Linked DNA regions of Homo sapiens: region 1 is linked to region 2. A link means that fine-mapping ties the variant in region 2 to the expression of a gene that starts in the linked region. Tissue or cell type: whole blood. Region 2 holds a variant in brackets; the other region holds the start of a gene. All regions are shown on one strand. Distances are from middle to middle.

What was found. PIP is the estimated chance that this variant, and not a neighbour inherited with it, causes the effect.
Region 1: VPS13A starts here. The variant in region 2 is fine-mapped to the expression of VPS13A in whole blood (TOPMed, PIP above 0.99).

Annotation. Positions count from the first base shown.
Region 1 is chr9:77,170,745-77,187,129 of GRCh38, reverse strand. VPS13A (vacuolar protein sorting 13 homolog A) reads right to left here and starts at 9,596. Exons shown (of 72, transcript NM_033305.3): 1 at 9,326-9,596. The coding sequence starts at 9,425. VPS13A-AS1 (VPS13A antisense RNA 1) reads left to right here and starts at 9,213. Exons shown (of 2, transcript NR_026668.2): 1 at 9,213-9,503; 2 at 10,224-10,374. RefSeq lists silencers at 8,431-8,600, 9,583-9,877, 9,639-9,968, 15,763-16,057 and enhancers at 9,583-9,877, 15,763-16,057.
Region 2 is chr9:77,192,507-77,208,891 of GRCh38, reverse strand. It overlaps VPS13A (vacuolar protein sorting 13 homolog A), which reads right to left. Exons shown (of 72, transcript NM_033305.3): 2 at 8,904-8,947; 3 at 7,485-7,527; 4 at 3,484-3,579; 5 at 2,813-2,914. Among named protein-coding and RNA genes, the nearest start is that of VPS13A-AS1, 23 kb to the right of the region's middle. The variant C/T (reference allele first, on the strand shown) is at 6,448.

The DNA of each region.
Region 1 (16,385 bases), 22 kb after region 2:
AGATGAATGGAGAAACAAAATGCAGTATATACATACAATGGGATACTATTTAGCTTGAAAAATTATTGAAATGCTGACATTTCCTACAACACGGATGCACCTTGAGGACATTATGCCAAGTAAAAGAAACCAATAACAAATGGCAAATACTGTATAATTCCACTTATACTTCAAGTATTCGAATTTACAGACATCAAAAGTAGAATAACGGTTACTGGGGTCTGGGAAGACGGTGGAATGGGTAGTCATTGCTTAACGGGTAAGTGGTTCAGTTTTGCAAGATGAAGAATTCAGGAGATGAATAATGGTGAAGTCAGGAGATGAATGGTGGTGATGGTTGCACAATGTAAGTGTACTTAATGACATGAAGTGTACACTTAAAATGGTTAAGATAGGCCGGGTGTGGTGGGTCACACCTGTAATCCCAGCACTTTGGGAGGCCGAGGCGGGCAGATTACTAGGTCAAGAGATCAAGACCATTCTGGTCAACATAGTGAAACCCCATTTCTACTAAAAATACAAAAATTAGCTGGGCATGGTGGCATGCATCTGTAGTCCCAGCTACTTAGGAGGCTGAGGCAGGAGAATCGCTTGAACCCAGGAGGCAGAGGTTGCAGTAAGCAGAGACTGCGCCACTGCACTCCAGGCTGGGCAACACAGCAGGACTCCATCTCAAAAATTAAAAAAAACAAATAAATAAAGGAGTTCTTCAGAAAGAAGGAAAATGATTTAAACCAAAAACTCAGATTCACAGGAGCATTAGAGAATTAAGAGATGAAGGTAAATTAAGTCTTTTCTTCCTTATTCTTAAATTAATAGAAAAATGTCTAAAATACTAATAGCAGCAATGCATTGGATTATTACAGCTTATAGGTAAGTGAAATTAATGACAACAATGTTACAATGGGCAGAAGGGAGGAATCTGTATACTGTATTGTAAGATAGAGTATTACATATACTACCTCCATTTTCCATGAAGTAGTATAGTGGGATTTTTGTTTTTGTGTTTTTTGAGACAGAGTTTCGCACTGTCGCCCAGGCTAGAGTGAAGTGGCACAATCTCGGCTCACTGCCTCCCAGTTCAAGAGATTCTCATACCTCAGCCTCCTGAGTAGCTGAGACTACAGGCGCACATTACCATGCTCAGCAAATTTTTTGTATTTCTAGTAGAGATGGGGTTTCACCATGTTGACCAGGCAGGTCTCGTACTCTTAACCTTAAATGATCCGCCAGCCTCAGTCCCCCAAAATGCTGGAATTACAGGCGTGAGCCACTATACCTGACCTATAATGTTATTTGGACGTGGACTTGGACTAGTTTTAAGTGAACAGCACAAACTGTAATACAACCACTTAAATAAATTGTTTAAGAAGCATAATTGGTATGCTAAGACAGGAGAAAAAAATTAAATCATATCACATGATCAATTAAAACCAGAGAGGGCAAAAGAGGAGGGGAAGACTGTTTAAAAAGGAAACAAGTATAACAAAACAGAAAACAGCTATAAATATGATAAGACACTGTCAAAGGAAAATAAAGGTTTTTCTCTCTACTCTCATATTCGACACAGAACCCTTAGATAACCAGATATGTGAAGTTTTTCCCCCAATCCCTAAACAATTCTCCAACAGACACTAACTATAATTCAATTAAATAATGACACTATCTACCTAGAAAGGGTGTCATATCGAGCCGGGCGCAGTAGCTCACGCCTGTAATCCCAGCACTTTGGGAGGCCAAGGCAGGTGGATCACAAGGTCAAGAGATCAAGACCATCCTGGTCAACATGGTGAAACTCCGTCTCTACTAAAAATACAAAAAGTAGCCTGGTGTGGTGACAGGCGCCTGTAGTCCCAGCTACTCGGGAGGCTGAGGCAGGAGAATCACTTGAACCCGGGAGGCGGAGGTTGCAGTGAGCCAAAATTGCGCCACCGCACTCCAGCCTGGCGACAGAGCGAGACTCTGTCTCAAAAAAAAAAAAAGAGATAATGTCATATCCCACATGGTAAGGGCTCAGTTCCATAAGACTGCCCCTCACTTCAGATGTCAGTCACAAGTCGCAGGCTGTGATCTGTGCTTCTGATTGACCAGCTATAAATCAGGGTTCGCACCTGATTTTATTTGGTTTGATAATTTGCTGGGATAACTCACAAAACTCAGGGAAATACTTATATTTAACAGTTTATCATAAAGGATATTACAAAGGATACAGATAAAGAGATGGACAGAGCAAAGTAAGGTGGTGGGGAGCTTCCATGCCCTCCCTGTTGTGGACTTTGGTATCTGCACAGGTCTTGGAACTAAACCCCTGGAGATACTGAGTGCTAAACATACACGTCATGACCAAATGGGATTTATTCTAGGTATGCAAGGCTAGTTCAACATTCAAAGATCAATTAATGTAATGTATCACACCAACAGATTAAAAAAGAAAAAAATCCTGTGATAATAGTAATAGATGCAGAAAAAAACATTTGACAAAATCCAGCATTCTTTTGTTTTTGTTTTTTTGAGACGGAGTCTTGCTCTGTCACCTAGGCTGGAGTGCAGTAGCACGATCTCGGCTCACTGCAACCTCCGCCTCCCATGTTCAAGCGATTCTCGTGTCTCAGCCTCCCAAGTAGCTGGGACTACAGGTGCCCGCCACCACACCCAGCTAATTTTTGTATTTTTAGTAGAGACAGGGTCTCACCATGTTGGCCAGGCTGGGCTCGAACTCCTGGCCTCAACTGATCTGGCCACCTCAGCTTCCCAAAGTGCTAAAATTACAGGCATGAGCCATCATGCCTGGCTCCAACATTCTTGAAGGAAAAGAAAACACTCTCAGCAAAGCAGAATAGATGTGTATGTATGACAGAAAGAAAAAAATTAGAGTATTTGTTGCCTCTGAAGATGAGGGTAGGAATAAATTAGGAAAGGTCAGGAAAAAGACTTTCTGGGGTGATGGTCATGTTCTATATCTTGACTGGGTTTGAGTTACATGTGTGTATGTATTTGTCAAAACTCAGTCAATGTACACTTAAGATTTGTATATTTTCTTCTACATAAATTTTACCTCAAAAGGAAAAAAACTAAGCAAATATTGCACTCTAATGATACACATGCTGAAGTATTTAGGAGGAAATGAGCTCATCTCTACAACTTATTCTGAAATACATTTAATAATATGAATTGCTGCATGGATAGAGAGATGGACAGATGGACAGGTATGTGACAAAACATGTGTGGTTAAATATTAATGGTATTCCATTATATGGATATGCCAGTTTGTTTATCCATTCACCTGTTGGTGGATACTTGGACTGTTTCCCATTTGGGGCTATTAAAAATAAAGCTGCTATGCACATCTGTGTGCAAATCTTTGTATGAACATATGCTTTCATTTCTCTTGGGTAAACATGTAGAAGCACAATGGCTTGATAACATGGTTGATGTATGTTTAACTTTTTAAGAAATTGCCAAACTGTTTTCCCAAGTTGTTTAACATTTTACATCCCCAGGAGACATATTAACAGAGTTCCAGTTTTTGCACATCCTCACCACCACTTGCTATGGTCAGCAATAAAAAGGAATAAATTATTGATTGTACTACCACATGGATGAATCTCAAAATAATTATGCTGAAATAAGCCAGACTGAAAGAATACAAACTGTACAATCCCATTTATCCAAGTCTAGAAAACTCAAGCTAATATGCAGTAACAGAAAGCAAATCAGCAAAAACCTGGGGACAAGAAGGGTATAAGGGACAAGGAGGGTTAGAAGATACGGTTTACAAAAAGGCACAAGGAAACTTCTAGGTATGACAGATATGTTCATTATCATGTGATGATTGTTACCTGCATGCACATATATGCTAAAACTTATCAAATTGTAGACTTTAACGTGTATTTTACTGCATGTTAATTATACGTCAATAAAGCTGTTAATACATAATATTAATGACAGAATCTAGATAATGGGTATATGGAGAGGCACTGTAAAATCTCCTAACACTTTTTATAATAAAATGTTTCATAGTCTTTAAAGTTTTATTAAAGTATCTTAGAACATAAATATAAAAATAATACATAAGGAATTAGAATTGGTCATTAACACCAGACTGTAAGAATCATTTGTTTGGCTCCCTAGTGTATTCTGGGCACAGAAGAATGACTCCTTAAAAATCGAAAACTGTATCCTAACTGAATCTTCATCTTTTGTACTGCTTCTGGTATCATGGCGGTATCCAGCTAAGTGGCCACTAAACACATGATTCTATTATAAAGGGAAAACTGGGAGATTAACATTTCAAAAACAGAATACGTATGTTAGTTAATAGACAAGAAATCTGAACTTCTAATGTTACATAAAGATGTCAGGCATTATCAAAAAAAAATTACAAATTTGTCCAAGTATTGTGATTTCGGAGAAAACAAAATAGAGACAAAGGAGGCTAACTTAAGAAGGGGCTATGAAGTACAGGTACTTCCTGTGTTACAAATGATAATTCTATCACACAAGCCACTTTTACTACTGCTTTTGTCTATTTAAAATTCTAATACTTTTCCCCTTAATGTTCTCTTAAAATGTACCCAACTGTGCATCAAGTCCCCAGTGTCATTTGTTTAAAAAAATATTTTCATGTCCTACTCCAGATAAATAATTTATAATCTCTGGGGGCAGGTTCTGTATTCATAATAAGCACCTATGGCTGATTCTGATGCAGCCTAGCTCTTAAAGAAAATATGTGAAATGGCCGGACGCAGTGGCTCACACCTGTAATCCCAGCACTTTGGGAGGCCAAGGCAGGTGGATCACTTGAGGTCAGGCGTTCGAGACCAGCCTGGTTGACGTGGTGAAATGCCGTCCCTACTAAAAATACAAAAATTAGCCATGCATGATGGTGGGCACCTTTAATCCCAGCTACTCGGGAGGCTGAGGCAGGAGACTCACTTGAGGCCGTGAGACAGAGGTTGCAGTGAGCCGAGATCGCGTCACTGCACTCCCACCCGGGTGACAGAACGAGACTCCGTCTCAAAAAGAAAAGAAAAAGAAAAAGAAAATTGCTGGAGAAAGTTGGGAAGATAAATTTCAGATGAGTCTATGAAATATTACCACCTCTCTAACTAGATGATATATGGGAAGGGAGAATTATAAATAGAAGTGTATAAAAAGTATACCTTACCAACATCAAAATTTGCCAAGAGTCAGTCCTGGAATGAAGCTCAATTCCTTTTTCATCCCCTGTAAGACAGAGTCTTCTAGCAGTGAGTCTACTTACTGTATTGAACCCAGTACAGTAGCACTCTTCTGCTGCATTATAGTTAAACAGGTTTTTGGAAAAGTCCTCATTCATATATAAGAATGCTTCCATGGGAAAAATGCATTCTGATTTCCAAAGAATCCATCTCAGCAACAAATTTTCAGAGCACCATCCATTATTAGCAATGACTGAATACTAATTGATACTATTATAGTAACATGCTAATATTGAAATTTGCTGGATTATTTCAGAAGCCTAGCAAAAGCACACATTTACAACTACCAATAGGTCCTTCACGTTAGACCATAAAATATTATCTTAAAATTTTCCTATGCAGCATCCAGTTTCTTTTTTTTTTTTTTTTTTTTTGAGGCAGGGTCTCGCTCTGTTGGCCAGGCTAGAGGGCAATGGTGTGATCTCAGCTCACTGCAACCTATGCCTCCCAGCTTCAAGTGATTCTCCTGCCTCAGTCTCCTGAGTAGCTGGGATTACAGGCGAGCGCCACAGTACCCAGCTAATTTTTGTATCTTATTTTTTTCGTAGAGATGAGGTTTCACCACATTGGCCAGGCTGGTCTGAAGTGATCCACCCTCCCCAGTCTCCCAAAGTGCTGGGATTACAGGCATGAGCCACTATGCCTGGCCACCTAGTTTCTATTACAGAAATTTTCAAACAATGTTTTTAAAAAATCCTCCAAATTTATCAAATTACTACTTTTGAAATTCTCAAAGAATATTTTAAAAAAATACTCCAGCTATTATTTAAAGTTTCATTTATCAAAACATAACCAATTTCTATAAATAAAACACTGACATGTTATTTTATTTTATTTTGAGACAGAGTCTCGCTGTCTGTTGCCTAGGTTGGAATGCAGTGGCATGATCAGAGCTCACTGTAATCTCAAACTCCTATGCTCAAGCAATCTTCCCGCCTCAGCCTTCCAAAGTGCTGGGATTACAGGAATGAGCACCACACCTGGACAATGACTTGTTATTTTTTAAATTATTTGTTAAAGACTAAAGTTAGAGGGATCACATTACCTGATTTCTAGACTAACTACAAAGACACAGTTATCAAGACAGTGTAGTATTGGTGAAATGATAGACACACAGATTGAGACAGACTAAAGCCACACAATATTAAGTCTACTGATTTTTTTTTTACGAAATGCAAAGATAATTCAATAGAGAAAGGATCCTCTTTCTTAGCAAGTGGTGCTAAACAATTGGATATTTGCATCCACATGCAAACAAATGAACCTCAACCTTCAACACATATCACACACCTTATACAAAAAGAAATCCAAAACCTAAAACTACAAAACTTCCTTAAGAAAACACAGGAGAACATCTTTGACTTTGGGTTGGGAAAAGATTTCTTAGATATGAATACCAAAAGCCATGATTCATAAAAGAAATGTTTTATAAACTGGGCTTTTCCCAAAATCAAAAATGTATGCTCTGCAAAAGACAAAATGGGAAAAGACTGAGAAAGTATTTTCAAATTACATATCTGATGAAGAAATTGTATCCTTAATATTTAAAGAACTCTCAAAACTCAACCATAAGAAAACAAACACTCTGGAAAAAGAGTTTGGCTGTTCCTCAAAAGGTTACACAAAGTCAGCATATGACCCAGCAATTCCACTTCTAGGTATATATCCAAGAGAATTTAAAACATACATCCACAAAAAAACTTGTACATGAATGTTCAGTGGCATTATTCATAATATCCAAAAGGTGGATGTTTAGGAATAATCTAAACATCCAGCAACTGGTGAGTATAGATAAATAAATTGTGGTCTATGAATATAATGGAATATTATTCAACCCTAAGAGCAAATGAAATAGTCATACATCCTTCAACATGGAGGAACCTTGAAAATACATTAGGTTAAAGAAGCCAGAAACAAAAGGCCACATATCATATAATTCCATTTAAATGAAATGTCCAGAATTACCAAATCCATAAAGACAGAAAGATTAGTGGTTGCCAGAGGTGGAGTAGTGAGAAGGGAGGAAATTGGGAGTCACTCCTAATGGACATACGATTTAATTTTGGGGTGCTGAAATATTCCGGAATGAGAGAGTGGTGATGGTTGTACAATTTTGTGACTATACTAAAAAACACTGAATTGTACATTTTAAAAGAGTGAAATTTATGGTATATGAAATAAATCTCAAAAAAAAAAAAAAAACGTACAACCCAATTTAAAACCACTCTTAGGTATTTATCCAAGAGAAATAACAATTATGTTCACACAAACACCCGTACGTGAATGTTTATGACGGCTTTATTTATAACCTCCAAAAACTGAAATATTCTTCAACCAGCAAACAGATAAATACTTACAGTCAGGCGGGCGCAGTGGCTCACGCCTGTAATCCCAGCACTTTGGGAGGCAGAGGCAGGCGGATTACTTGAGGTCAGGAGTTTGAGACCAGCCTGGCCAACATTGCAAAACCCCCTCTCTACTAAAAATTAGCCGGGCGTGGTGGCGGGGTGAGATCAACTGCAAAGGAGCAGCTGAGAGAATTCGGGAGGCTTGATGAACCTTTTATGTGCCATTATTGTGGTGGTGCATACATGCCTCTTAGCATTTGTCAAGACAGAACTGTATCACAAGAGTGAATTTTACTGCATGTAAATTTTAAACAAATAAATAAGTTGATTAATCACACTCTAGACAAACCTCCACCCTGAATGTGGAAGCAAGACTCCACTACAGATCAAAGTTCACCTCAAGTATTCTTAAGGCTTCCTTCTGAGGTACATGGGAGACAAATTTTATTTTCACTTTGCAACTAAGAAGCAGCATAAACAGACTGCAAGTTTCTTGTACTAATCAAACAGGCTGAGCAGCTATCACTATATCCCTAGCTTTTGTAGTCCACTCACTCTCCATCATGATACTAGGTCCCCACGGTAGTAACATTCTTTAAAATCAAACTAAACTACCTGTTTACATTATCTCATAAACGAGAAGAGTCAAGGTAAGTATTTTAGAAGAAGACTGGAAGTGTGTGCACAGACAAGAATAAATTACTTTAAATATATATTTAAACACACACACTTCACACACAAAATTAACCCTCACTTTGGCCTGGGAAATTCATTTCACAAAGGAGTCTAATTTCTAGCGGGTGTTTAAAATAAACAAGCGCATAATGCAAAAACAGATGGAAACACTAAAAATGAGGCTCTCACTAAGGCAGAATACCACACTAAACGGACACAAGGAAAGCTCGGTCCTTCACCACCTAGGCAGCGTAGGGCCCTGTTCAGCCCGGTCTTTTGCAGGTCTGAGACGTTGCACCGCACGCCCTGGTTTTTCTTTAAAATTCGGCAATTCACTCTGACCCACATATCCTAAAGTCTTGAAAATGTTACACATTCCTAGGTCAGGCTGTTAACTGCAACCACACAAGCAACTGTTTGAGTTACTTTGCACTTGAGTTTCCTTTTTGTTATCCGCCGAACCCAGGCGAGAGAGAGCCGGCGTCCGGGTCCTAGGGCCGGAAGGGGGAGAGCAGAAAGCACCACGGGTGAAGCCAGGAATTGAGGCTGGGGAAGCAAGGAAGCGGGCGTCCCCGGTCACAGCGCCCTGCCTTCACGTGCGAGGCAGCATGCAACACGCGGGGGATTTCTGGGGCCTTCGTCATAAACCCAGGGGGGCAAAGGACAGGGATGGGACCCAGCCCAGGAAGGCGTCGTCTCGCCTCCTCGCCCCGCGCGGCTAAAGCCGGACCGTGCGGGGCCAGGGGTAGAGAACGGCCCCTCGCCGGGACTTGAACGCCAGACCCACGGAGCCCACGGCAAGTCCGCTCCGCTCGGAAAATATAGACCTTTTCATCCCGCACTCATGACCCTCTCCTTTCCCCCAAAATATAAACAACTCGAGGGCGGAGGCCAGGGAACTGCCGCCCGGCTTTACGTAACTTGACCCACAGGCGGGCGGCGGCAGGTGGCTGCACCCGGCGAGCAAGGTGCTCGAAGCCCCGAGAACGCAGGACGCCGCTCGGGCAGCGAGACGGCCGGGAAGCACGAGAGGCCGGGGAGCGGCGGCGGCGGCCTCCTTACCTTTCCAGATGCCCAGAGAGAGCTGGGACGTGTCCAAGTCCACCACATAGTCCCCCAAGAACCGGTTCAACACGTCCACGACCACCGACTCGAAAACCATGTTCCTCAGCCGTGGTGGGCACGGCAGCCGGCCCGTGCGCTCCTCCTCCCGCCGCCTTCCCCACGCCCCTCCCTCGAGGTAATTCGGTTCACCGGCTCCGGGGCGGCTTCAGCTGCGGCGCCCCCGCTGGCCCAACGCGCAGCCCTAGCGAGCCCAGCGAGAGACGGAGGCGGTCGCTCTCACGACGCGTGCGCAAGTCTGCGCGCGGCTGGAGGCGGAGCGCGGCGCAGACCTGGGCGCGCAGCCCTGAGAGGGAGGAAAGGCGGCTGCGCGGCCGCGGCTCTGGAGGGTGCCCTTTTCGCGCCGAGCCCGGCTCCTCTTTCCTGTCGGCCCCGCCTCCTCCCCATCGCCTGGCAACGGGACACCGGTCTGGAGCTACCGGATTTTTTCCGACCCCGCCCCCTCCTGCAGATCAGCGTCCCCAGCGGCCCCCCAGGGCGGGGCGGTTACGCCCGACGGGAACGCCCCTCCCCCTAGAAGGTGGTGGCCGCTTCCACGCGTATGACAGGGCTCGCCCCTGAGTAAGGGTGGGCGGATCCCAGCCCCGTCGCCAGAAGCTTCAAGGGGGCTGTCCCAGGGAGCATCTCCCCTCATCATTACAGGGTGGGAGGGTCCAGCCAGCCTGGGTGTCTTGGTGCCTGTAACCTCCCCGCCTGGTCCTCCGACCGCCTGGCTCTCAGGAGGAGTTAACTTCCTGCTGCGAGTCGAGGATGGAGTTACATAGTCCCTGCCCTGCATCTGAGATGAGCACCCATTTTTGGTCAAGTCATTTATACGGAGCTGTCTTTCATTCCAAAGAGTAACACGCTTCCCTGCAGATAAGAGTTGGAGTCAGCCGGTCTGGAAACTGCTGAACACCCTCCAAGAAATACTGGGAGTGCTGGACCCTTGACCCCTATGCCTCCACCGAACCACTGACCTAAAATAAATTACAATTACAGATCTTTCGACCTGTTTGGTCTTACTTAGAAGTAATCCCAAAGGCCTGAGGTCACAGAGATGCTAAATGTGAGGTTTAGAGAACTGTAATTAATCATCTGCAGGACCGAAAAAGTGTACATTGAGCGTTTTCTCTTTACACGTTAAATGAATAATGATGGATTTCTATTAATTCCTGTGTCATTTTACTACTTTTTGTGCATAGTCACCGACTTTTCAAAATTAAATGTTTAGGGTGTGCCTTTGCAAGTAGAATGCCTGACAAAAACTGTAAGTTTTTACCTGAGTTTATGAATGTTTTTCATATAATTTTATATTTGAAGGACCTTTATGAGGTCTCCAACCTCCTAGTCTTAAATATAATGAAGCTGAAGTGTTAGGGATGTGTGCAAGGTCATACAACCAATGTTCTGTGGAAGAACTGGAACTTGGCCCTTCTGATTGGCTACCACCCCACCTGCTTCTCTCTCATTCAGCTAACAGTCTGCTTCAGAATACCTGCACGGAGAAACGAATAGAGGCTAAAATGCCTAGGAAGGGGAAGAGCTCTACATAATGAGGCATTTTGCCATTGCACTATTAATAAGAAGCCAGATACACAGTAGCTGCAAAATTCCGCTGTTATATCTAGCGCTGCAAATTCAAAGTTACAAGAATTTCCAGAACTCCAAAAATCCATCTTAAGTATCTTGCAAACGTTTTCATATTAGTTTTCTACGATCTAGGAAAATTTTGTGGAAGTGAGGAAGGGGAAGGGATGTTGCTGAAAAGTTAGAGGTATAAGCATAAAGCAATGAAAAAAAATTCTGCTGAGGAAGAGTTAGAAATAAGTGGATGCATATTGTAACCGAATTCTTATCTAGTGTTAGATGTATATGAACATGCTTTGTAAATACTAAAAGACAACATTTTGCATTCAGTCTTTGCATTGCTTAATCCATCTAAGGAAGTTTGTAAGCAAAAATATATTAACATCATCATGTAAAAGGTATGCTCATTAAACCATTAAACCAAATTTCTGTTGTACCTTGAAAAATAAGCCCAATGACTACCATAAAAACTCGAGTTTCAAATTAGGAAGTATGTCAGTGTATGTTATTCTTTCTCTAGATCACAATTAAAATGCTATACTTCATTGTTTGATCAAATGGAAAAACAAAAGAGGGGGAGAGCATCTGAATGACCCCAAACTGCAATATCATCTAACTTTACAATAAATCTCTAACTTTGCAAGTAGGACTTGCAGTTTTATGTATACCTTCCATGCCACAGCTCTTCGTCTTTAAAGTTTTGGTGTACTGGTAGTAATCTTGGAATTTTTTTTTCTCCTAATCTTAATTCTTTTGTCCACAAGTAAATGTCATTGGTGGGCTGCTTGTCCTTATCATTCCCCATGGGCATTGTGGTAGCAGGCTAGATGGCCAGATAACAAAGCTGTTGAAGCAGACCACAAAGCTGTTGAAGCAGAAGATGTCCTGGAGGAACAAGTGTAGAAGATGGCCGTTTTATAGGTATGGGACTTTTACTGATCTAACTTCACAGAGCCCTGTGCTCCATCTGTTTATGCTTTAAAAATTTTAAACAATAAAAAGTTATTTGGAGCCTGGCATGGTAGCACATGCCTGTAGTCCCAGCTACTCCAAGGGTGAGAGGATCCCTTGAGCCCAGGAGTTTGGGGCTGCAGTAAACTATGATGGTGCCACTGCATTCCAGCCTGGGTGACACAGTGAAAAAAAAAAAAAAATTCTTTAGACCATGTGTTCCAATCCTTAATAAAAAGAGAAAAATTCACTGGAAGGGGAATACAAGCAAAAAGGTAAAAACCTTATAAGAATCTTACTTAAGGCCAGGCACAGTGGCTCATGCCTGTAATCCCAGCACTTTGGGAGACCGAGGCAGGTGGATCACCTGAAGTCAGGAGTTCGAGACCAACCTGGTCAACATGGCGAAACCCCGTCTCTACTAAAAATACAAAAAAAAAAAAAAATTAGCCAGGCATGGTGGCACACACCTGTAATCCCAGCTAGTCAGGAGGCTGAGGCAGGAGAATCGCTTGAACCCAGGAGGCAGAGGTTGCAGTGAGCCAAGATCACACCATTGCACTCCAGCCTGGGCAACAAGAGCAAAACTCCATCTCAGAAAAAAAAAAAAAAAGAATCTTACTTAAGCAGGGCAGGGGAAAATGTAAATTGTCACAATATTTCTAAAAGGCAGTTCCTAAACATTTACAAACTGACATAGTACATATGTGTATATATATCAGCGTACATACATATATATACGTACATGTGTATATGACGAACTCAGCAATCCCACTTCCACAGATTTACTCTAAGAAAATAATTATAAAAATCCAAAAAATTATTCCCACAAGAACTTTTTTTTTTTTTTTTTTTTTTTTTTTTTTTTTCAGAAAGAGTCTCGCTCTTGTCACCCAGGCTGGAGTGCAATGGTGCGATCTTGGCTCACTGCACCCTCCGCTCCCAGGAGGGTTTAAGCGATTCTCCTGCCTCAGCCTCCAAGTAGCTGGCATTACAGTCGGGTGCCACCACACCCGGCTAATTTTTGTATTTTTCAGTAGAGACAGGGTTTCGCCATGTTGGCCAGGCTGGTCTCCAGCTCCTGACCTCAAGTGATCCACCCATCTCGGCCTCCCAAAGTGCTGGGATTACAGGCTTGAGCCACCAAGCCCAGCCAAGAACACTATTTAAAGCATTGTTTATAATAGCAAAAAGAAATGGAAACGACCGAAATATCCATTAACAGGGAAGCTGGTTAAGTAAACATACACACGTAGTGGGTTACTATACAGGCATTAAGATGATAATGAAAGTCTATACTAGTGTGGAAGGATGTCGATAATATATGCTCATGAGAAACAAGGTGCAGAATAGTATCCCACTAATTATACAAATTGGTGAGTTTTTAAGTGTGCAGAGCATTTACATACAGAAAGAAATCTAGAAGTATGCTCACCAAATATTAACAGTGGTTATCTCTATATGGTGAGACTTTTGGCAATGTGTATTTTTTCTGTTCTTTCAAGTTTAATTTTTTTGTAGTGAGCATGTATTATTTTGCCCTTCTAAACTGGTGAAGAAGATGTATCAGAAATGCTATTATGTTGTATGTTATCTTATAACTCTCTGGGAAAACTATGTATGCACATTGATGAATTGCTGTGAGCGGGTTCTGAACCTTATCGGATAATTGATAGACATGGATGTGAACTCTCAAAAGCCTACCAAAAGACATGAGCAGACATTTCCTGAAGAGTATATACAGATGGAAACAAGCGCATGAAAACATGTGCAACATCATTAGCCATTGGGGAAATGAAAAGTAAAACCACAATGAGATATCAGAATATCTTATCATATTATATCTATCAGAATGGTTGGAAAAAATAGTGACAATACCAAGGCTGGTTAGGATACTGAGAAACTGGATCATTTATTCACTGGAGGTGGGGTTGTGAAATAGTTAAGCGCTCTGGAGAACAATTTGGCAGTTGCCACAAGAACTAAACATGCACTTACTATATGACCCAGCAATTGCACTCCTGGACATTTATCCCAGAAAAATGAAACCTTATAGATCACACAAAAACCTGTACATGAATAGCCAAAACTTGGAAACAGCCCACATTTTTTTCAACTGGTGAATGTTTAAACAAACTGTGGTACATCCACACTGTGGAATACTCAGCAATAAAAAAAGGTGAACTATGGATACATGCAACAACTTGGATGGATCTCAGGGGAATTATGCGAGTGAAAACATGTATTATTATATTTGTGAAACACTCTTGAAGTAACAAATTTATAGAGATGGAAAACAAATTAGTTGTTGCCAAAGGTTAAGTATAAGTAGGATGGATAGGTGCGGCTACATATGGATAGCAGGAAGGAGCCTTATGTTTATGACACACTTCTGTATCTCGATTGTGGCAGTGGTTATATAAAATTGCATTAAACTACACACACACGTAAGTGCATATAAAAGTGGAGAAATCTGAATAATCTCCATGGATAGTACCAATATCTTTATTTTCTTATTGTGATATTGCATTATAGTTATATAAGATGTCACCATTGGGGAAAACTGGGGTGAAGGGTATATGGGACCCCCCCTATAGATTTTTTTGCAACAACTCTCTATCAAAGTATAATTATTTTTAAAATAATTTTTGAAGGGTTTGCTGAGTCAAAGTCAACTAGGAGATGCCCCAGAGAATGAGATAAGCCTGAGAGTTAACAGCTCCTACATAATAATTTAATATCCCTGCACGGGGTGCCTGGTAAAAATATTCAAGAAAGAAAAGTATCTGAATGTGGTGACTTACCAGCATGTATTGAAATATCAATTATGCTGTGATCCCGGTAAAATACTTGAAAGAGGGATGTACAATAAGGGACTCTCAAGCAACTTCCTCTGACTCTAAATACTTAAAACACCTGAGCTCTTCCCAGAAAAAGAGGGTACCAAATACTGATGTCCACCAGTGCTTTTGATCTCAGATTTTAACATGGCTGATATTAAAAGCTGATTCCTTGTGATTCAGCTCTGTGCTCAGATATCACCTAATCATAGAGGTGATGTCTTCCCTGACCTCTCAGTCTCTAGTGGCCAGCAGTTATGCTCTGCCATATCACTTTAGCAGCACCTTAATCTAGCTGGCATTTTTTCCAACACTTGCAGAATCAGCATTACCTCACTATCTCAAAACAGTCAGAACCAACTTCATTGTTCCCCATCCTTAGAAGTTTGCTTCTCAGAACTCAGAGGCACAAGGGCCAGTCAAGCATCCCCTCGCCTCAGAAGTCTGAGTTTCAGTTTGAGGGCCCCTCTTCTAAATTTCCAAGTCTGTCCCTTTGCTCACTGAACCCTTGGGGTTGTATCTGGTTTTTGCAGTAACTGCCTCCTCAGTACCTTAGAATTCTCTCTTTACCTTTTCACTACTTAATTACTTATCTAGTTAACAATTCTGTACGTACCTATATCTATAGAAAGGGGAGTTGGGGCCTGCAGCTGAGTCTGTGCAAGGGAGATGTTTGGCTGAGAGAGGGAAGCCATGTAATCAAAGGGAGTAAATACAAATTATGACTGAGGAGGGAAGCCAGGCTCAGGGCCAGAGAGCTGCTTAAGTGTCAGGACAGGCAGCAACTGCTAGTCTATAAATAGGTAATGAGCCCAAGGGTCAAAGGTTTGGATAATCAAGAACAGGTCAATCAGTGCAGTATGAAGTAGGTCCAGGAGAAGGATGGAGAGGTGGGGCTGTGCATGTGGCGTGCTGAGAGTTTGTTCTTAATTGCCCTGTGGCACAGGGGCAGTGGGCTTAGATAGCTCACTCTGAACTGAATCCACTGATACCACTGCCCCTCCTTGTTTGTTCAGCCCAACCTCTCCATTTGTGAGCCAATATTGATTTAGACAGGATGTGAAAGACCTCCCAGAATGAACTCTCTTCCTCTCTGGACTTCCAAATATTGACCATGATCTTGATTTCCTGCCTCTGATTTCTTTCCCTCCTTTGTGAACCATTGACTGAACTAGAAGCTCTGTGTTCCATGTGTGTGTTGCTATTTCTGTTAAGCCCTTCCCCAGAGCCTGGACCACATGTCAATGTGCAGTTCTAAGGACAGCCACTGTCACTCTGCCTCACCTACCCTCCCCTACTTATCTGTTAATGCAAGTAAAATAAAACATACAGGTAGGAAGCACTGACCAGGATGGAGTGGGGTGGGAAAGTCCCGGAGTTAAAGAGCAGTGAAAGTCCATTATGGAGATTTAGGCAGGAGGTAATTATAGATCTCAACTAGGCCAATGCAATTCAAATGAATAGAAATACATTGATGTGATGGAGGTCATAAACGTGGAATTTATAGCCTTCGAAATTGATTAACTGTGGTAAATGAGGTAAATATAATAATTCCAAGATTGTGTCATTTATAGCAACTGAAACATGAAAACAAGACATTGGTTTTATAGGAGATGATAAAGAATTTTAGTTTTAGGTTC
Region 2 (16,385 bases):
AAGTTCCATTACTTTCCAAAGAAATAGAAAGAATCAAGAATTGGAGGGGCAAGGTGGCTCACACCTGTAATCCCAGCACTCTGGGAGGCCAAGGTGGGCAGATCATCTGAGGTCAGGAGTTTTAGACCAACCTGGCCACTATGGCGAAACCCCGTCTCTATTAAAAATATAAAAATTAGGCAGGTATGGTGGTCCATGCCTGTAGTCCCAGCTACTTGGGAGGCTGAGGCAGGAGAATCGTTTGAACCAGAGAGGTGGAGGCTGCAGTGAGCCGAGATCACACCACTGCATTCCATCCTGGGAGACAAAGTGAGACTTTGTCTCAAAAAAAAAGAAAAACCAAGAATAAAGAAGAATAAAGAATTGAGGTTCCTAATTTTTTTGAAATATGCCTTTGATAATCATAGTTATTATCCTTTTTCTCCCCTTAAAAATGCCAATGAAAGCTATATTCTTTATTTCTAATTCTGTTCCTCTTTTCATATTTCTACTCCTATATAGAAATAATACATATAAATCTATCTTTTCCTCTAATTGCCTATTACTCTCAAATTCAGCTGGCCCAGGAGGCCTTAGATAAAGGAAAGCTGAAGATACTAATCATATGTACCTCAAATACACCAGAGTTAAATGAATATATATACATATAAATAGATTATAGAATTAAGTAGACAACAGAATACAAGCTCTTTAAAGACAGAGGATCATATTTTAATCTTTGACTCTCACCACTACCTAATAAAATCTTTTCTTTTATAAATTCATTTAGTCATTCGATTAAATGTTGTCTTTCTTTCTCTACCCACTACTTCCTCCTGACTTCCTTATGCAGCTCAGATTCCATGATATGTTATTTTACCAACACCTTAAATCCCTTTGCTCTTTTTTTGCATATTACTGTCAATAAAGTACCAATCCTGAATAAAACCAACTATCCATTTTACATGAAAAGCATATCAATGCCTATATCTTGCAGGGTAATGAAACAAAACACAAGATGAGTTTAAAACAAACAACAACAACAACAAAAATCCAAGTCACAGAACCCTGGAAAGACACAGGAACTGGAAACCCCACCAAACAAAAAATAGCAAACATGGAACACAGTGGAGAGAGAGGAAGATAACACAAGAACTGATTTAAATCTGTATAAGGAGCAGTTAAGTTAGGTCCCCTTCTCTCCCAGCCCAATATCCAAGCAACATCCCTTTCCCACCCTAGTGAGAACACAAGGGTTTATTTTAGAGAAAATGGCCCTAATAGGATCCAAATTTTGTACATGGGAGAACAGGGAGGTTAACTAAAAGCCTACAAAATAAACAGTCATACTTAAAGCCACTTTATTTATATATAAATAAAACATTTATATATAGCCATGATACTATTAACAATGAATTCTGATTTAACCAAAAATGTGACAGAACTATATAGAGAAGATGAAAAAATAGGGTCAATCTTCATAGTACATCATAAAAGGATGTGTGTGTAATATATATATTACACGTTATATATTATATATGTCATATATATGCCAATGAAACACGAGATGAGTTTAAAATATGTAATGTCATTAATTATATGTTATAAAATATGTTATGTTATAGATAATATGCATGTTATGTTACATATAACACGTTTTATATATATATATATATATATATATATATATATATATATAATATCTAAATAAATCAAGACACAGAGGTTTGAGCACCATATTTAGTAATATAGGTGCGGGCCTGGGCCAGGAACAGTTGGTTTTTTTTTTTAATCCGGACACTATAATACTGCTTAACTTTTAAAGCTATGTATATATATTATCTTGATAAAATAAAAATAATTTTTAAAAAGAAAAGGCCTAAGAGACTTAGGAAAGAGGACTGGAGGTAAGGATAAATGACTACACATAATATAAAGTAACTGTTACAGAGAAAAAACAGAATTACAAGAGATATTGCCAAGAATTACATGTTAAATCTCTATTAATGTTTGCCAACAAGTAAAACATTATTGAAGCTTATTATTTTTTATTAAAAGAAAATCAATGCATTTCAGAGACAGTGAAGTCAGTAAACTTTTTAATTTTAAGATGTTTAACTATTAAATGAATGACAGAGGAGAAGAACATAAACAGATGACTAGGTTAAGAAAATGACTTCATGTTTCAAGATAAAGAACAGCGTATTTACATGCCAAGGCAAAAAACCCACTAGGTGAGAGTTTAAAAAGTAGCTGGCAGTAAGGATCAGAGAACAGGTGAAAAGGAATTAGATTTCTTCAGGACACCGCTTCCAATAATGAAAAAGAGGTTGCAGTAATGGAACATATTGTCTAAGTTTAATTGGAAAATATGTGAAGCCAGAGGGTAAATAAACAGATAGAGGCAAATAGAAATATGTCAAGAAACTAAGTATCTCCAAAAGGGTGAAGAATTGATATAAAAGGAATACAAAAGCAAAGGCTAGAAAATTAAGAAAATATGCTTGATAAAATTAATTGCTATCATTAAAAACTGACCTTACCTAGTATGTATATGTGTGTGTGTGTATATATATATATATAAAAAATATGTAAACCTAATAATAATAATAAGCTAGACATATTATTTGCCTTAAGATAAATTTCCATAAGGTAAAATTCCTGTACACATAACAAAGCATACAAACCACATTAAAATTCCCCATGCAATGAGATTCTATCATATTTCTGAAATAATCTCAGCATCTCCAGAGAAAAATAATATTCAATTATGATAAATATTTAGGTCTTTTCTACTTCTCTTATTAGCATTGTTATTTACTGTTTTCTTTACCTTGATCAACTACTTTTTGTTTTGCTTCTTCTATTCTTTTCAGTTCCTGTTGCTTTGCTTCCATGAGTTGTTTCTCTTCTTTTAAAGGATCATATTTTATTCCTATAGGAAGATTAAAAAGGAAGAATCATAACTACCTTAAATTTAAATATAGTCATTCCAAAAAAATCCTTACAAATAATCATTAATTGGCCGGGCGCGGTGGCTCATGCCTGTAATCCCAGCACTTTGGGAGGCCAAGCTGGGCGAATCATGAGGTCAGGAGTTCGAAACCAGCCTGGCCAACACGGTGAAACCCCATCTCTACTAAAGATACAAAAGCTAGCTGGGCGTGGTGGCAGGCGCCTATAATCCCAGCTACTCAGGAGGCTGAGGCAGGAGAATCGCTTGAACCCAGGAGGCAGAGGTTGCAGTGAGCTGAGATGGTGCCACTGCACTCCAGCCCAGGTGACAGTGCGAGACTCCATCTTAAAAAAAAATAATAATAAATAAATAATAAATAATTCAAAGTTGCCAAAAATGTAGAGTAAAAACCAATTTAATTTGAATTAACAAATATCAAATTTAAATATTAAAATCTCAAAAAAATTCCAAAAGTATTTTGAATATAAATATTTTTCCATCCATAAAAAAGAATAACTTAAATTATAATTTTTTTAAATTTAACTTACTAGAAGAAGGCACTATAAGTAAATAAATTTCTTCCAATACGGCTTCAACAGGTTGAGTATAAAGGTTTTTCCATGGAATTATAAGTTTAAGATTACCTACATTTTTTTGGGAAAAAAAAAAAGGACAAAAAATATTACTCCTTCAACCTGCATTTATGGTTAGTCTATTTTCTGTCAGGCATTGAAGAGATAATAAAGTGGCCTTTGTCCTTAAGCGTTTAATCACTTTATTGAAAGCTATTTTACAACTACAAACAACAAGTGTTTGTTGTAATGATTTGAAATTATTGTATTTATATCAGTACTGTTGGAAAACCTAGATTATATTCGAAATATACAAGTTTCTATTTACAGTTCTCTGTACCATAAACAAAACAATGTTCTTCTTCCCTTAATCAACAATCCTTAATATCATAACTTTGAATTTCCCCAGTTCTTACTCTAAACCTATATTTTTTAATGCTTTAAGATGGTAGATTAGGCCAGGCGCAGTGGCTAACACCTGGAATCCTAGCACTTTGGGAAGCTAAGGCAGGTGGATCGCTTGAACCCAGGAGTTCAAGACCAGCCTAGGCAACATGGCAAAACCCTGTCTCTATGAATAAAAACTAAAAAAATTAGCCAGGCGTGACAGTATGTGCCTGTAGTCCCAGCTACCTGGGAGGCTGAGGTGGGAGGATCTTGAGCCCAGGAGGTCAGGACTACAGTGAGCCATGATCATGCTACTGCCCTCCAGCCTGGGTGACAGAGTGAGACCTTTACCTCCCCGCAATGAAAGGTAGATTGTATACTTTAAATAAGTGTGTGTATGTATATTTTTCATTATGTATATGTGTGTTACATACGTATGTATGTATGTATAGTAATTCACATATACACATATGGTAATAATCATACATATAAACTATATATATGAAAACTACACATAAAGTAATAATAAAATATTCTGGGTAATATTTGAAAATTATGCAAACTAATGAAAACATCCTAAGAAAATCAAACAGCAAAGAATTTTTTTTTTAAGCGTAAGGGTTCTTGAACTACAAAAACACTATGTATGGGGTTTCTTATACTACTCACTCTAGTTTTGTATCTTGAGAATATTTTCGTAATAGAGAGTTTTAAAATATTTTAGAATTGTTTAAATGGTATGAGTGTCTAGATTTATACAGCTGCCATAATTGTGTAAGGAATAGATTATTAAATATACTATGTTGCTAAAACTGGTTAGTGATTGGGAAATTTTTTTAAATCCACTTAGATCCATCTCATGATATTTTATAAACTCCATGTGTAGAAAACTTCAAACTGAGAAAAAGATTTCATCATATAATATCACTTCAGAGAAAAATGAACTATCTGATTTCTTTTTTATATTTTTTGTAGAGTCACAGTCTCACTATTTTGCCCAGGCTGGTCTCAAACTCCTGGCCTCAAGCAATCCTCTTGCCTCTGCCTCCCAAAGTACCGGGATTACAGGTATCAGCTACCCTGCCCGGCCTCTAAACTATCTGATTTCTAAAAGAGGAATAACTTTCTAAGTTTTTAAACCAGAGAACATGGGGATCATTTCAAATTTCTGTACAGACCAAAAATATAACCAAAATGAAATAATAAGATTGTGAAAAAACTGTAACAAATTTGACACGGTTAATTTATTTATAAATGTACCAACAGACTGCTTAAAATACATACAGTAATACTTCAAAAAAAGTAAATGAACAAAAGGACAAAGAGCAATTACAAAACTGTAAAAATAATAAACACATATTAACAGTGTGCCATTTTCACCACAAATGTTTTTTTAAAAAATCCAAACTTGACCAGGCGCAGTGGCTCACATCTGTAACCCCAGCATTTTGGGTGGCTGTGGTAGGAGGATCCCTTGAGTCCAGGAGTTCAAGACAAGCCTGGGCAACATGGCAAAACCCTGTCTCTACAAAAACTACAAAAATTAGCCAGGCATGGCGGCGTACACCTGTAGTCCCAGCTACTCGGGGACTGAGGTGGGAGGGTTACTTGAGCCAGGAAGGCATAGGTTGCAATGAGCCAAGATCGCACCACTGTACTCCAGCCTGGGCAACAGAGCAAGATGCTGTCTCAAAAACCAAACAAACAAACAAACCTTTTCTTCCTTCCCTTATAAAATGTAGACTCCTAGTAGAAAATTTGGCAAATTTCAAAAAAATACACAGATGTAATTCCAAAAACCTTCCACAGAAGACAACCTCTTTTATAATATGTACATGTGTATTTATATTTGATATATCTATAATTCTGCATTCTAAACGAGGGAAATTTTGAAAGATCAATACCCAATAATAGCAAGGGGACATACATTCCTATAAAACTGATTGTACTACTGTATCATTCATTTGGAAACATGTATTACTTTCATACAATAAATTGTGCCCCTACTATATATACCAAGTAATGTGCTAAGTGGTGAGGATACATTAAAAATTAAACCCACTTCTTCTCAAGAAACTCGATGTCTACTAGAAGGGGGAAAAAACAGTGATATTTTTAAAAGACAGGTGCTACGACAGAGGTACACAACACCTTAAATGACTCTCAAAATTATCTTGGGTTTAGTTCAGTGTACTTTCTACTATCTTATATTATCACTAAAAATTACCTTATCATTTTTAAACAAGATTAGGCAAGAAAAGAGAAGGCGGGCAGATTCTAAAGAAAATAGTCTATCTACTCTCCTGATATATTTTTTGACTGTTCTTGAATTGAGGTTAAATTTACATACACTGAAATACGACAATCATCACTGTAAAATTCAATGACCTTTGGTAAAAGTTTAAAAGTTATATAAAAATATGTATTGTAATACTTCTGTACCAATGGAAAAATAAAATTATTCTACAATATCCAAATATGCATTCACTGGATTATTATGGTACAGAATAAATGAGATCAAATCAACTCAGATTATGAGAAATCCTTTTTATA[C/T]GCTAATGAAAAAATATAAAACTGTAAAAATAGCATAATTACAAGTATTTCAATACATATAAACTTGTAAGTATTTAAAATGTACACATGTAAATAATCAGAAATATGAAAAAATTAAAATGTTAGGTAGATAAAAATGGGTGACATTCTCCCCCTCTTACAGTAAACAGTCTTTAAAAGGTAGGAGTGGGGAGGATAGAATTCTACTGTCAGTAACATATGATGATGAAAGTTTTCTATGGTATGTGGTCTAATACCAACCATAAGTACACATAATTATGAAGACCTTTATCATGTAATCTAGGTAACCTTTCAGAATACTTTGTTCCCCAAGTGACAACAGTATAGCTTCAATAACAATGTATACATCCTACCACAAAACTATCTATATAACAAAAATATCTCCAAGTCCCAACTAAAGACACTATTATCTTGCACAATATTTAAACCAGTAAAACTGTAACACAAGAAACATGACAGATAAGTTTTTATTAAAGATGTTAAAACCTCAAATTCCAATCATTTACTGCTCAACCAATATATTTAAGATATAAACAGTAAACACTGGTAAAAATAATACCAAACAAGAAAAAGCACAGTATTTTCTGAAACCATACAAAAACTTGCAGAGCAGAAATTAGTTTTCAAATCGGCCCCTAGTCACAGGGCCTGGATGATGCAGAACCTATTCTTTACACAATATATCCAATGTTAATCAAAATATAGCAGTGGTAACTAGACAGAAACCTAGGAAACTGAAACAGTTAAGCTCTCCCTTAGAGGTAATCCTTTGAATTAACTCAATTTACCACCTAAAGAGATATGTAATGTATTAGGATATCAAATACTAGGCAAGGGATATATGTATCGGACAATATTTTTAAGTTGCACAACAAAGCTCTACTGAGACAAAAACACATGATTATTTTTAATTGATGCTCAGAAACATGAAAAATATCACATAATAGATATATTAGGCAAATTATTCTGGCTGCATGTCCAGGAAGGAGGATATCCCAATAATGAATATGGCTTACCTATGTGACCAACTTTAACTTTAAATGGTACATCCAGTTGACTCTACAGAAAAAATTTATATATACACAAAACATTAGTAGATATAGAGTTTAACAACATAAATGAATACTCTTTACTTCCAAAAATTATTTCAAGGGATTTTTTAATAAACTTACACATTTCCTTATCATCAACATTTATTTAAATATATAAACATATAACTGCAATATTACTATCAAATCCATAAAATCCAGGGAAGCTGCTCTTTTAATAATAATTGGGGATAAAGGTCTACAGTAAAAATGACCAGAAAATCTACTCATATCAAATCATTACCAATTTTATATTATTTTAAGAAAAAGAAGTGGCAATTACAATGTCATTTTATGCTTTTAGGGAGATTAAAACTCTATTTTGCAAAATACGCGTTTTGTAAAAAATAAACTTTCAAAACGTTCTCCCCATTCAAAGAATAGCCTTTTAAATAAATGGTGCTAGGAAAACTAGATATCCACTCGCAAAAACATGAAACTGAACCCTTATCCTATACCATATACAAAAATTACCTCAAAATGGATCTAAGATCTAAACCTAAGAGCTAAAACTATACAACTCTTAGAAGAAAACATAAGGGAAAATCTTCACGACATTAGATTCGGTAAAGACTTCTTGAATATGACAATAAAAGCACAAGCAATTAAAAAAATGAACTAGTCTTTATCAGATTAAAAACTTTTCAGCTGCTCAGGAGGCTGAAAGGGGAAGACAGCTTGAGCCTAGGAGCTGAGGCCTACAGTAAGCTATGATCACACCACTGCACTGCAGCCTGGGGTGACACAGCATGAGCCTGTCTTAAAAAAAAAATCAGAAAACAAGTTAAAAATTTGAAATAAAAACATCTGTATTTTTTGTATGTTTGTTTTTGTTTTGTTTTGTTTTGAGACAGAGTCTCACTCTGTCACCCAGGCTGGAGTGCAGTAGCACGATCTCCATTTACTACAGCCTCCACCTCCTGGGTTCAAGCGATTCTCCTGCCTCATCCTCCCTGGCAGCTGGGATTACTGGCGTCCACCACCATGCCTGGCGAAGCTTTTTGCATTTTTAGTAGAGATGGGGTTTCACCATGTTGGCCAGGCTAGTCTCGAACTACTGACCTCAAATAATCCACCTGCCTTGACCTCCCAAAGTGCTGGGATTACAGGCATGAGCCACCATGCCCAGCCTAAAACAATATGTATTTTTAAATAGAAAAAAAATCACACTGTCCATTTGTGCTTTCAGGGAGATTAAAACTCCATTTAGCAAAATTTACATTTTGCAAAAATTATTTACAAAAAACTTTCTCAAATTTAAATAATTTAAGGTGACAAACTGAATCAGGAAGAATTATACATAATTAAATGCAATAACTTTACAAATTTTTCATAGTCAAAACCTACCAGGGCATTTTCTTTAATTTGAAGATTCTTGAGGGCCACAGCTCCTAAAAAAGATTAAAAAAAAGATTCAAACAATCAAATATTTTTCATTTTAAAAAGTTAATATGTATGCTTCATTCCTGTCATAATCAGGAAAAATATATAAATAATGTGCATAACAGATAATATAATCTGCCTATAATCTTATTATCTCACCTTCATTCTTCTACATAGTCTAACAGAGTATGCTTGACCAAATCTTCACTAATTGTATCTTTTGACCTCTGCAATTGTAGCTCAATGTTAATATATACAAACATTTTAATCAGAATTATACAAATGAGTCTAACAAAGTAGCATGATACAAGATCAACATGCAAAAAGTAAACTACATTTAAATATACTTGCAATAAACCATTGAGAAAAAATTATTTAATGCAAAATCAGTAAGCCCCAAGATACGTAAATAAAAACTTCCCAATTCAAAGCCAATAAAAAAAGAAAATGAGAAAAATAATAGAACAGAATGTCTAAGAACTATAGGACAATTGCAAAAGCTGTAACATACAGGTAATGGGATTAATGAAAGTTTAAAATACACTGCTATAACATTAGGATGTTACATGTAACCCCATCGTAACCACAAAGAAAATACCTTTAGAACATACACAAAAGTCATCCAGGCATGGTGGCAGGCACCCGTAGTCCCAGCTACTTGAGGAGGCTGAGGTGGGAGGATCACACAAGCCTAGAAGTCCAGCCTGGGCAACACAGCGAGACCTCATTGCTATCTTGATGTTAATATTAATTATGTTATTAGTTAATTAAACACAAAATGAATCAAAGTTGCTATAAAAAATTAACTAAACCAAAGGAAAGGCACTAAGGGGTAAAACAGAAAGAAGAAATGCTGTAAGACACATAGAAAGTAATTAGCAAAATGGCAATATTAAGTCCTTCCCTATCTGTAACTACTTCAAATATAAATGGCTTAACTCTCCTACAAAAAGACAGATTGGCAGAATGGATTAAAATAAACAGGATCCCAGCCGGGAGCGGTGGTTCACGCCTGTAATCCTGGCACTTCGAGAGGCTGAGGCAGGTGGATCACCTGAAGTCAGCAGTTCGAGACCAGCCTGACCAAAATGGTGAAATCCCATCTCTACTAAAAGTACAAAATTAGCCGGTCGTGATGGTGCATGCCTGTAATCCCAGCTACTTGGGAGACTAAGGCAGGAGAATTGCTTGAACCCAGGAGGCGGAGGTTGCAGTGAGCCGACATCACGCCACTGCACTCCAGCCTGGGCAACAGAGTGAGACTCCATCTCAAAATAAATAAATAGAGAGAAAGAGAGAGAGACAAAAAAAATAAAAGTACGTGGTCTACAAGAAACTCACTTTGGCTCTAAGGACACTCATAGGTCAAAAGCAAAAAGATTTAAAAAAAAGTAAGCCCATGCAAAAATAACCAAAAGAGCAAAGATACCTGGGCATCACTAATCCAAAACTCCAAAATCGGAAACTTTCTGAGTGCAGACATAATACCACAAGTGGATGATGAAGATAAAGATGATGATGTTACCAATGCAAAAAGGTACCTATAGACCACATGGTACATGGTGAAAATGTGTGATGGGCTTATTAAAGGACTGGAGCAGCAGGCATTCATAACAGAACAATAAATTATGACAGTTTATAAAATCAGAGACTTCTCAGACAAAAAAGAGTTAGTGAGGCAGATGGTTCTGGAGGAAACATTTTTAAAAGCCATCTAGCAAAATGCCTCCTCATCCCCTGAGGATCCAATTCCGGGCCCCTCAACTGCTTCTAATGTTTCTTCTCACTTGAAAAAAAAAATAAATAAATACAGTACATTCTACAGTTACCTTTTAATCAAAACACAGCATTGTAGGTGGAGACTGAGAGCCTGCCTGCCACTGTTTGTTGCTGCTGCTGTTTAACAGTGGATACATATATTCCCAGTGATGCTACTGTGCTGCTTACTCACCCTGAACACACTGTATTTTCACTGAATTAATGGTACCTCATATGTCTTACTGTTAACAACTTACGTGTGAATAAATGTGAGAAAATTATTGCTGATCAGCATATAAATTCAGTCAAGAATAACGATGATGCCAAACAACCACAGATTGTCCACATGGGCAGCTGAGACAGTGACGCCTTTCCTTTCTGATGGTTGAAGGTACACAAGCTTTGTTTCATGCAGAAAATTATTTAAAATATTGTATAAAATTATCTTTGGGCTATGTGTACAAGGTATATTTGAAACATAAATGAATTTTGTGTTAGACTTGGGTCTCATCTCCAAGATATCTCATTATGTATATGTACGTATTCTAAAATCTGAAGAAAAAAAAAATCCAAAATCCATATCACTTCTGATTCCAAGCATTTCAGATAAGGCATATTCAACCTATACTAATATTAGACATATAAACTTTAAGTCAAAATCTGTTACAAAAAACAAAGAAGGGCATTATATAATGATAAAACCGACACTTCACTAAAAAGATGTAACAATTATAAACATGTATGCACCAAACATGAGACCAGCAAAACATATGAAGCAAACACTGACAGAATTGAGGAGAGAAACAGATAGCACTACATTAGCAGTAGAAGGCTTCAATACCCCACTTTCAGTAATGGACAGAACAACCACACAGAAGATTAATAAGGAAATATAGGACTTAATACTATTGACCAACTGGACCAAAAGACACATACAGAACACTCCACCCACCAACAGCAGAATACACATTTTTCTCAGGTGCACATGGGACATTCTCCAGGATATATGTGAGGTCATAAAACAAGTGTCAAAATTTTTGTAAAGAGAAAAGAAAACATACAAATGGTCAACAGGTATATATATGAGAAAAGGCTCAGCATCACCCATCATCAGATAAATAAAAATCAAAACCACAAGAAGATATTACCTCAACCTATTAGACTGGCTATCATCAAAAAGACAAAAAAATAAATGCTGGTGTGACTGTGGAGAAAGGGAAACTCTTACACACTGTTTTTGGGAGTATAAATTAGTACAGCCATTATAAAACACACTATGGAAGTTCTTCAAAAAATTTAAAAATAAAATTACCATATGATCCATCATTCCCACTAATGTATAAATATCCCAAAGAAATGAAATCAGTTTGTTGAAGAGAAACCTGGACTTTATGTTTATTGCAGCACTTTTCACAAAAGCCAAGATATGAAATCAAGTGTCTACAAACAGATGCACTGCTAAAGAAAATGTGGTATATATATACACAGTGAAATACTATTCCCCATTTAAAAAAAAAAACAAAACAAAACAATATAATCTTGTCCTTTGCAGCAACACAGACGCACCTGGAAGGCATAATGCTAAGGGAAATAAGCCAGGCACAGAAAGACAAATACTGCATGATTTCACGTGTGAAATCTAAAAAAGTTGACATCTCATAGAAGTAGTGTATAGAATAGTGGTTGCCAGAGGCTGGGGAATACTGGCGAGAGGGGAAATAGGTAAAGATTGGTCAATGAGAATAAAGTTACAGTAAGATGGGAAGAATAAGTTCTGGTGTTCTATTGCACAGCAGAGTGACTATGGTTAACAATACTGTATTGCATGTTTTAACATAGCTAGAAGAAAGATTTTGAATGTCCTCACCACAAGGAAATGATGAATGTATAAGGTGATGGATATTCTAAATACCAATTTGATTTTTATACAATGTATACATGTATTGAAACATCACCCTGTACCTAATAAATATGCACAATACATGTCAATTAAAAACAAAATTGTAAAATTATAAAAGATTGACGTTATGCAAGGTATCTTTTCTAGTAACAATAAATAAATAAAATAAATAAGGAAATAACAGATGGAAACAGAACAATGAACAAATATATGAAAATTAAGCACTCTTAAATAAGAAACGGGTCAAAAAGGTAACCCCAAGAAAAATTAGAAAATATCGAGATGAAAATAAAAAGACTGTACCATCATAATTAGTATGATACAGCAAAAGCAGCGCTAGAAGGAACATAAAGCTGTAACTGTTTATGTTTAAAAAGAAGAAACATCCCAAATCACCACCTAAATTTATTCCTTAAGGAAATAGGGAAAAAAACAAAACAAAATGCAAACCTAGCAGAAGGGAGAAAATAATAAAGATCAGAGCAAAGATAAGTGAAAGAGAATGGAAAAAAAATAAAAATAAAAATAAAGCATTCGTTTTCTTTTTTTTTCTTTTTTGAGACGGAGTCTCGCTGTGTCGCCCAGGCTGGAGCGCAGTGGCACGATCTCAGCTCACTGCAACCTCCGCCTCCTGGGATCAAGTGATTCTCCTGCCTCAGCCTCCTGAGTAGCTGGGATTACAGGGGCCCACCACCATGCCCAGCTAATTTTTGTATTTTTAGTAGAGACGGGGTTTTGTCATGTTGGCCAAGCTGGTCTCGAACTGCTGACCTCAAGTGATCCACCCGCCTCAGCCTCCCAGAACGCTGGGATTACAGGCGTGAGCCACTGCACCGGGACACCGACTGTTAGTTTTCTAAAAAGATCAATAGGTTGGGCAAGGTGGCTCACGCCTGTAATCCCAGCACTTTGGGAGGCCGAAGCAGGCAGATCACGAGGTCAGGAGATGGAGACCATCCTGGCTAACATGGTGAAACTCGGTCTCTACTAAAAATACAAAAAAATTAGCCAGGTGTTGTGGCGGGCACCTGCAGTACCAGCTACTCGGGAGGCTGAGGCAGCAGAATGGCGTGAACCCGGGAAGCGGAGTTTCCAGTGAGCCGAGATTGCGCCACTGCACTCCAGCCTGTGTGACAGGCTTATACCATATTCAAAAATTAACTCAAAATGGATCCAAGAGCTAAATGTAAAACTGAAAACTATAAAACTTAGAATAAAGCATAGGGAGAAAGTTCTGTGACACTGCATTTTGCAATGATTTCTTGGATATAACACCAAAAGCATAGGCAACAAAAGAAAAAAAATAGGTGAATTGGACTTCGTCAAATGTTAAAACTTTTATTCCTCACATGACACTATATACAGTGAACAGACAACAGAGAGGAGTCAGGGTGGCCAAGTAGACACAGAGTCAGGAAGAGCTTCCACCACCAAGAGACCAGGCCATCAAGAAGACCAGCACACTCTGAGCAGATCTTTGGAAGGAAGGCACTGAGAGTGAACAGAAGGAGGATGCGGATCCTGGGCTGAAGGAGGAGAAAGCTGGGAACCTTACAGGGAGCTCCCCTAGCACCATGACTCATTCTGACCCCAAATGCTCCTGGGGAAAGGATGAGTTAAACAGGCATGGAGTAGCCTGTTCTTGTCATGGACCTCTAGAATCCTAGCTGAAGGAGGCTCCATGACCCCTACAGACATTTGAGGTTGCAAAGACAGCTGCTTGGGAAGTTGGCAGAAACAGGACTCCAGTCTGCACGGAGCCCAGAAGGCCTGGTGTGGGAATGGCTGCAGTGGAGCATGGCCAGGTATGTCCATCTCCCAAAGCTCACCACACACCTCTAGGTAGCTTTGGTCTTTGCTGACTATTGGACCTAGACAGAACAGAACTATCTTGCCCATGGCACAGGGCTTGTCAGATTTGAGCGCCCCCCCCAACCCCCATCCCTGGTTGCCTGTTCCACAGTCCCTGCCTGGCCACATCCAATTGCAATGGACGCTGATGCCCAACCGCAGCACTTCCCGACAGCCACCACTATAGCTCCTTTGCTGGCAAGCCCCAGGTAACCACCAGAGAGCACCTGCACATGGGCCTCCACCAGCATCCACCCACGCACAGCTTCCCCGCACTGTTTTGCCAGGACACCGTCACCCACAGCCTCCCCCGACGGCTTTTCCAATGTATATGCAGGCCTTACCACCCTACTGTCACCACCCCAACCAAGCACTTTTGCCGGCCCCACCATCAGAGTGTTGTTGCCCAGCAGACCGGGAACACCTTGGCCCCACCAGTGCAATGGGTGCTTAACCTCGAGGAGACAGAGAACAAAGTCATGTGCCTAGTCCTAACACCCCAGGGTTATAGCATGCATGCCAGGAGTGCTGAGCTGAGCCTTGGTACCCAGAAATCATCAAGAAACTATGCCAGTCGACTAAACTCAACTTATATCAAGGTCAAACCCTTGGGGCATCCAAGAATATAAAAGCAAAAAGCCTCATTCAAAGGATAGCAACTGGAGAGATTAAAGGAACATCAGCCCACAAAGATGAGAAAGAATCAGGGCAAGAATTCTAGCAACTCTATAAGCCTGAGTGTCTTCTTACCTTAAAATGACTGCAGTAGCTCCCCAGCAATGGTTCTTATTTTATATATTTATTTTTTTGAAGAGAGAGTTTTGCCCTGTCGCCCAGGCTGGAGTGCAGTGGCATGATCTCGGCTCACTGCAACCTCCACCTTCCGGGTTCAAGTGATTCTCCTGCCTCAGCTTCCTGGGTAACTAGGATTACAGGTGCCCACCACCACACCCAGCTAATTTCTATATTTTAATTAGAGACAGGGTTTCACCATGTTGGCCAGGCTGGTCTTGAACACCTGACCTCAAGTGATCCGCCCGCCTCAGCCTCCCAAAGTGCTGGGATTACAGGTGTGAGCCACTGTACCCAGCCTAGTGATGGTTCTTAATCACACTGAAATGATGGGCATAAAACTCAGAAGATACCGAAATTCGGGAGAAAGTTGAAACCCAATCCACGGAATTTAAGGACTCCAGTAAAATGAGTCAAGAGCTGAAAAATGAAATAGTCATTTTAAGAAACAACCAAACTGATCTGACAGAGCTAAAAAACTCACTACAAGAACTTCACAATATCACTGGAAGTATTAACAGCAGAACAGATTAAGCTGAGGAGGGAATCTCAAGAACTTGAAGACTGGTTCTTCAGTATCAACTCAGACAAAAATAAAGGAAAAATAACTTTTCAATGGAAAAAAATCTCCCAAAAACATGAGATTATGTGAAGAGATCAAATCTACAACTCACTGTTGTCCCTGAAAGAGAGGGAGAGAAAACAAGCAACTTGGAAACATATTTGAGGATACTGTCCACAAAAATTTCCCCATCCTAGCTAGAGAGGTTGACATGCAAATTCAGGAAATTCATAGAACCCCTGCAAGATACTATACAAGATGACCATCCCCAAGACACATAATCATCAGATTCTCCAAGGTCAATGTGAAAGAAAAAAATAATAAAGGGAGCTAGAGAGAAGGGGTAGGTCTACTACAAAGGGAATCCCATCAGGCTAGCACCAGACCTTTCAGCAGAAATCCTACAAGCCAGAAGAAATTGGGGGCCTAATTCAGCATCCTTAAAGAAAAGAAATTCCAACCAAGAATTTCATATCTAACCAAACTAAACTTCATAAGTGAATCAGAAATAAAATATTTTCAGACAAGTAAATGCTAAGGGAACTCATTACCACCAGACTTGCCTTTTAAGAGGTCCTTAAGG